2 linked regions of the Homo sapiens genome follow. The protein of the gene in region 2 purifies or fractionates together with the protein of the main gene of each other region. This does not show direct contact. Each region holds a gene or a part of one and is shown on either strand. Other genes may lie near its edges. The genes, in order: CCNE2 and SCML2.

Region 1 (3,825 bases), on a different chromosome or scaffold from region 2:
TAATGGAATCAGACACTTAAACTCACCAATCCCCCTTTCCCTGCATTCTGTCCCACCTTACCCACCCCATAGGTGATCCTGCTGTAGATGATCTATTTAGAGGTGATTGAGACTTCTCTTGACTGTGATCACATGCCTTATGTGTTTAACTTTTTTGTATTGCTCTTGAGAAAACATTTTTTTTCACTTTTAATTGCATTTATTTTAGTGCTGAATTTACTCCTGTGCCATAAGTTTTTGTTTCTTCAGTTTCTTCTGGGATATCTTTTTCTTCTGGGCAACCGCCTCTTCTGGTTTAGGAACAATTTGTTCCTTTTCACTAAAGATCATTTCGATGTGGCAGGGAGAGATCACGTGTGAGTTAATCCGACCATGAGCTCTGTAGGTCCGTTGGCACATCGTAGGTGCTTTGTTCACTTGGAGATGCTCAATGACCAGAGAATCTACATCTAAACTCTTAAGTTCAGCATTACTCTCTGCATTTTTAAGCATGTGCAGCAAAAATTCAGCACTCTTTTTGGGCCACCAACCTTGTGTCCAGTCCCACTGCTTGGCCTGGGTACACCTACCAACTCCACCATTGTAATGTCAGAATGGCACATGCTGTTTCTGTAAAGTGACATTTTAAAAATACTTCATGGTGTTTTTTTTTTTTTTTTTTTTTGGAGACAGAGGTTTGCTGTTGTTGCCCAGGCTGGAGTGCAGTGGCACGATCTCGGCTCACTGCAACCTCCACCTCCTGGGTGCAAGTGATTCTCCTGCCTCAGCCTCCTGAGTAGCTGGGATTACAAGCATGCCACCACGCCCAGCTAATTTTTTGTATTTTTAGTGGAGACGGGGTTTCACCATGTTGGCCAGGCTGGTCTCGAACTCCTGACCTTAAGTGATCCACCCACCTTGGCCTCCCAAAGTGCAGGGATTACAGGTGTGAGCCACTGTGCCGGCCACTTTGTGGTTTTTCATATATGCATACCCTTGATAGCCTGGGCAGTTTCACGAGTGTTCTTACAGTGAACACAAAGATTTGAACCTCTTGATTTGCATGATTTTGTGGGGTTTTCCAGGTAAAGTGAATAGCCAGCTATTTTCACAGATTACTTCAGACCACTTATGGGAAAAGCAACGTGGTTATCTTTTAACAGCAACCTTTGTAAAGTATAAATAAGTGGAACTAGAAAGCACTCCCTTGAAATCTGCAGGTTTGGATGATCATAGTCCAGGTTCCCACTGTGTTACTTCAGGCTTCTATTTATTCATGCAAAGGAAATTGTTTCCAAAAATTAAGGCAGAAGTTTTTTTTCTTATTTACTTTAAGAGCTTCTTCCAAGTTCTAATTAAAAGTTGCATTTCAATGTCTGAAAGTTGAATTTTATCTATGTGAAACAGAGTTTGTATATTACATGGATTGCACAATTTAAATTATGTTTTTTAGCCGGGCATGGTGGGTCACGCCTGTAATCCCAGCACTTTGAGAGGCTGAGGCAGGTCGATCACTTGAGGCCAGGAGTTCGAGACTAGCCCAGCCAACATGGTGAAACCCCATCTCTACTAAAAATACAAAAACTAGCCAGGCTTGGTGGCAGGCACCTGTAACTCCCAGCTACTTGGGAGGCTGAGGCACAAGAATCGCTTGAACCCAGGAGGTGGAGATTACAGTGAGCCAAGATTGTGCCGCTGCACTCTAGCCTGGGCCACAGAGCGAGACTCTGTCTCAAAAAAAAAAAAAAAAAAATATATATATATATATATGGTTTTTTTCCTCTCTTTCCATAGCTGGGGATGTTCAAAAGAAGTCTGGCTAAACATGTTAAAAAAGGAGAGCAGATATGTTCATGACAAACATTTTGAAGTTCTGCATTCTGACTTGGAACCACAGATGAGGTCCATACTTCTAGACTGGCTTTTAGAGGTATGTTACAGCAATACAAATTTCCTTTGTCTCTGTATGATGGAAACATATTTAGCTGTAAATGTGCTTTCTATGTACTCTCAAGAGTTTATTGTTCATCCCCAGGAAGCTGTCTTTTTTGAGGTACTTACTGTAGTTGATTGCACCCAAAGTGGAAAGTGACTCTATAAGAGTAAAACCATGACAAAGCTACTACATATAACTAAACCCAATTCAGAATTCCTGTTACCTGTGGATACTGCTGTGTACCAACCACTTTCTGGGTGCCACAGATACTCAAGGTGAATGGAATGTATAGTTGATTAGGTTTTGAATTATGCTATACAAAGTGAAGAACTAGAACTAGGCTTCAGGGCCCTCTGAAGTCTTTTTCTGTATTAACAAAATCATGATGATGAGGAATCCTGATTTCTATATCCTAAACCATAATGAGACTATGGATATCTGGAAGCTCTACGCCCTCTATTGTCCAGATACCTTCTCTTTATTATATTCTTCTATTCTTTTCCGAAATATACCATTAATTTAAAGGAATAGTGATCCTGAAGCCCCTATAGATTTGTGCCAGATTTTTCTCTCTTGTTTAGGTCCATTCCCTTTCCTCTGGATAATAGCTCTAAAAAAGTTTCTAAAATTATTATTAAGGAAATCATTACTTATGTTGATGACAAACTGATTTTTCCTCCAACTCTTGGATATTTGCTCTGTAGTCTGTCTTTAAGACAAGAGATGAAGCATTCTAAGGGAAAAAGACCATAGACTTTTTGGAGGAGGAACACATGGCAGAATAGATCTCAGAAGCTATCAGAACAGTTTTTAAGACTAAAATGTTATCCTTTTGCATCAGGTCATCTTTTTCCTTATTCTGACTAGAAGGAAAGATTGTATTTTAATTGTGGGCACAAGAAGGCATTGGGTTTTGACTTTTTCTGACTGTCTAGTGATCATGGAATCAACTTAAGCACAATTATGTTAATTTTTAATTTGTTTCCTTTTTGTTATACTGATATTCATCCAGTGGTTATCCAATTCAATTTGTTCCTGTTTTTACCTAAATATGATTATGTATGCAACAGCATACAGAATATATCAAATCCAGCAGTGTTAAACTCTATCTTAGTGTATTCTTCAGTCTAGGAATGCAAACTTGATTCAACATTTGAAAATCTATTAATTTATTACCTTAACAGTAAATAAGAAAAATGCTAAGATCTCAATAGATGCAAAAGACATTTTTTGAAATTCGACATTCTTTTTTTTTTTTTTGAGACGGAGCCTCGCTGTTGTCACCCAGGCCAGAATGGAATGGCACGATCTCAGCTCACTGCAACCTCTGCATCTCGCGTTCAAGCGACTCTCTTGTCTCAGCCACCCACATAGCTGGGATTACAGGCGCAGGCCACCACACCTGCTATATTTTGTATTTTTAATAGAGATGCGGTTTCACCCTATTGGCCAAGCTGGTCTTGAACTCCTGACCTCAAGTGATCCGCCCGCCTTGGCCTCCCAAAGTGCTGGGATTACAGATGTGAGCCACCGCACTCGGCCAGCAAAAGAGATTTTCTTAACTCATTATTAGAAACTCATGTGGCCAGGTGTGATGGCTCATACCTGTAATGCCAGCACTTTGGGAGACTGAGGCAGGCAGATCAGTTGAAGCCAGGAGTTTGAGACCAGCCTGGCCAACATGGCAAAATCCCATCTCTACTAAAAATACAAAAAATTAGCTGGGCATGGTGGCACACACCTGTAATCTCAGCTACTCAGGAGGCTGAGGTAGGAGAATCGCCTGAACCTGGGAGGCAGAGGTTGCAGTGAGCCACTGCACTCCAGCCTGGGTGACAAAGTGAGACCCTGTCAAAAAAAAAAAAAACTCTGGTATATATCTCTATTTCCTCACCTCCAAAATGGGGATA
Region 2 (3,825 bases):
ACTCCTGTAATCCCAGCACTTGGGAGGCCGAGGTGGGCAGATCACCTGAGGTCAGGAGTTCCAGACCAGCCTGGCCAACATGGCGAAACCCCGTTTCTACTAAAAAAAAAAAAATTGCTGGGCATCGTGGCGGGTGCCTCCCAGCTACTTGGGAGGCTGAGGCAGGAGAATCGCTTGAACCCGGAAGGTGGAGGCGAAGGTTGCAGTGAGCCAAGATCGCGCCACTGCACTCCAGCCTGGGCAACCAGGGGGAGACTCCGTCTCAACAACAACAACAAAAAAAGAACAAAACAAAACATTTAGTTGGGATGGATGGATGTCATTAAGAAGTTGACACCCTGGAGGAAAATAGTGTAAGTCAGAAATAACAAGCAGGAAATGAATACCCAAAGAACTAACACTCTTCCATAAACCAATGACATTTGTAAAATTTTTCAGTAATATTAGAAAATACTTAATTCATCTCCATAACACAAATTTTTAAAATATTCTATTACCATTTGTGTCTGAATGGGCTACAATCTGAGCTAGCAAATCCTTTATACTAGTGCTCTACAATATAATTTTCTATCAAATTACTGGTTAATGACCATATGCAGCATTTGCCATTTGGAGCCTCAGGTTCGTTGGTTTTTGTTTGTTTTCTTTTCCCCTTTTTCCATAAGGCAAAATTCTTAATCATCTTGATAAAACTGTTCATCTTGGCTGCCCACGTGTTCATAACATAGGGGAAACACACAAAGCTCCAGGCTTTACTAATTTAGACTTGACACATCTACGTCAATACCACCATTGGAATTCCCAACCAGAAGCCAAAATAGTCAGAAAGTCTTAGTTAAGCCTGAGGTCCCAGTCTGCCTCTGCATCATGTCTTCATTGACAGACTGGGGATGGGGGCAGTATTCTATCTCAGAAGAGAGGCCTGGGAACTGATATGATTTTATATATATATCTCCTTGTGATCTGATTGTTATTCACATGTGCCCATGGTCTCTTCTTTTTTTATTTGTACTCTATTCTAGTCTACACATTAGCTCCAACATCTTTTTGTACTGAATATAACCCATATGAGCTCCCCTGGTCTTCTCTAGAGTAAATCAGAATCATGTCTTCCACCAGTGCTATCCTTGGGATCCCTTGCTATGTGAAGATGGGCAAAATACCTAGAGATAGAAGTTTCTCAGCTGAATGATCAGCATCCACTAATTCACAGCATTTATCACAACTACAATTAGGCATCTGTTAATTTCTATCTTGCCCACTAAGCTCAAAGAGGGTAAGAGGCTGGGTGCAGTGGCTCACACCTGTAATACCAGCACTTTGGGAGGCTGAGGCGGGCAGATCGCTTGAGCCCAGGAGTTCAATACCAGCCTGGGAAACACAGAGAGACCCCGTCTCTACAAAAAATTGTTAAAAATTGCCAGGCATGGTAGTGCACGCCTGTGGTCCCACATACTCGGGAGGCTGAAGTGAGAGGATCACTTGAGACCAGAAGGTCAAAGCTGCAATGAGCCATGATCATGCCACTGCACTCTGGCCTGCATGACAGAGTAAAACCTTGTCTCAATCAGTCAGTCAATAAAAGAGGGCAGGAATCATGTCTATATTGTTCGTAACTGGATTCCCATAGCAGGTCATCAGCATGTGCCAGGCACTGTCCTAGGTACTGCAGATGCATGAGTTAATAAAACAGATTAAAACCCTGGCTCTCTTGGAGCTTACCTTCTGGTAGTCACTCACTGATTTCTAAAATAGGATGTTAGGGCCCAGGCCTGAGAAGTATCTGCAGATGGCTATCAACTTAAGTAATCTATTTTTTTAATTAAATGTCTAGAATGGGAAAATCTATAGAGGCAGAAAGTAGACCTGTGTTTGCCTAGAGCTGGGGGAGACAGGAGGCACTAGGGAGAAATGGGGAGTACTGTTAATGGGTACAGGATTTCTTTTTAGGGGGATAAAAATGTTCTAAAATTGACTGTGGTGGTGGTTGCACAACTCTGTGAACATACTGAAAACCATTGAATTGTGCACTCTAAATAGGTGAATTATATGATATTTGAATTATAACTCAGTAAAGCTGTTATATTTTTAAAAACAGATGGAGAGGAGTTTGTAGGGATAAGGAACAGTCTAATTCAATGGCCTCCATTTCCTCAGAGGATTTGGGGGTCCCAGGGAAGAGTTGAAGAACAAATAAGGCCATGGTAAAGAAAGTTAAGGGAGCACTGAGGGCCCAGCTACAGTGAGAGAACAACAATTCCGTGGGGATTACCTCTATAGGCAATCTTCAAGTAGGAACAGAAGGTCATAGGGTGAACTGCTCTGCACTGGGGCTGGCAGGGCAGATACAACAGAAACACAAGGGGCAAGAAATCTCTGGAAATGTCTGGTAAAACAATAGTTTGCTACGTTATTTTTTAATGCCTTTTGTGTACATATGACTTATTTTCTCATTTAAGAGCAAGCCAATGCATCAGATTCTATTACATCTCCTGAGTGTCTCTGATGCAATATTATACATGTACTGTTCATAATAAGGAACATGAATTAATAAAGTTAACATTTACTGAACACTTACTATATGCCTAGGCATTATATTAGGTGCTTTAAATTCATTTCCTCTATTTATTTCCAGTAGTGCCATGAGATAAGTACTATCATTATCCCTGTGTTATAAAGAAGAAAAAAGAGCCGGGCACAGTGGCTCACGCCTGTAATCCCAGCATTTTGGGAGGTTGAGGCAAGTGGATCACCTGAGGTCAGAGGTTTGAGACCAGCCTAGCCAGCACAGTGAAACCCCATGTCTACTAAAAATACAAAAACTAGCCAGGCGTGGTGGTGCATGCCTGTAGTCCCAGCTACTCGGGAGGCTGAGGCACAAAAATCGCTTGAACCCGGAAGGTGGAGGTTGCAGTGAGCCAAGATCACACCACTGCACTCCAGCCTGGGTGACACAGCGAGACTCTGTCTCAAAGAAAGAAGAAGAAAAAACGTCTAAGAGCTGTTGAGTAATGTGCCCAAGGTCACCATGGCCAGTAAGGAGTGAGGACAGAATTCCAGAACACATCTGTCGGACTCACCACAATGCCTATAAGCTCTTAACCACTGAACTGTCTTCTGACCATGAAAAAAAAGCTTTCACATTGACTGTAACGTTAGAAGGGTTTTTGCTAATAACCAAATTATTTTAAATTGGTAATACATGGCAATTAATAACTAGATACCTATAATTTAGGAAAATTTGCACTGAAATATACAAAGTTACCCTTTTACTTAATCCGTGTCAACTTATCTCTAAGTAAAATTTTCAAAATAAAATACAATTTTTGACCTTTCTTATTACATTTTGTATTTACAGAAGTTTACAGTATACAGACTGTACAATAAGAAATCAAAACAATAAGAAAATTTGCACTTAAAGTTAATTTTAACACTAGTGAGGAAGAAAACTATGCTGTATTAAATTACTTTAAAACCTACCCCTTTGTACAGAAGATGTACTTGACTGAGGAGTTTTCTCTTGATTCTCCTTCTTGACATCCATGGAATCTAATAAAAAAGAAAATAGCAATACTGGGAGTCCACAGCAACAGCTTGAAAGAGCACTCAGAAAAATATAAATTAAAAAACTTTAAAGAGCCAATTTTAGTTTTATAATATCTTCATTTTCTATGTAGGACTTACCATTTTCTAATGTACTATGCATTTTATAATCTGCTCATTTATTGTCTCACTCTACTCAAATGAAATCTCCAAAAGGGCAGAGATTTATTTATTTTATTGTCTATCTCATTCACTGTGGTATCCTCAAGCGCCTAAAACAGG

What was found.
Region 1: the proteins of SCML2 (region 2) and CCNE2 purify together in Homo sapiens (pull-down; one study listed by IntAct). This does not show direct contact.

The regions. Positions count from the first base shown.
Region 1 is NC_000008.11:94,888,499-94,892,323, reverse strand, and holds part of CCNE2 (G1/S-specific cyclin-E2), read left to right. Parts: intron 1-1,773; coding exon 1,774-1,909; intron 1,910-3,825. UniProt on the Homo sapiens protein: Essential for the control of the cell cycle at the late G1 and early S phase.
Region 2 is NC_000023.11:18,327,107-18,330,931, forward strand, and holds part of SCML2 (sex comb on midleg-like protein 2), read right to left. Parts: intron 3,550-3,825; coding exon 3,481-3,549; intron 1-3,480. UniProt on the Homo sapiens protein: Putative Polycomb group (PcG) protein. PcG proteins act by forming multiprotein complexes, which are required to maintain the transcriptionally repressive state of homeotic genes throughout development.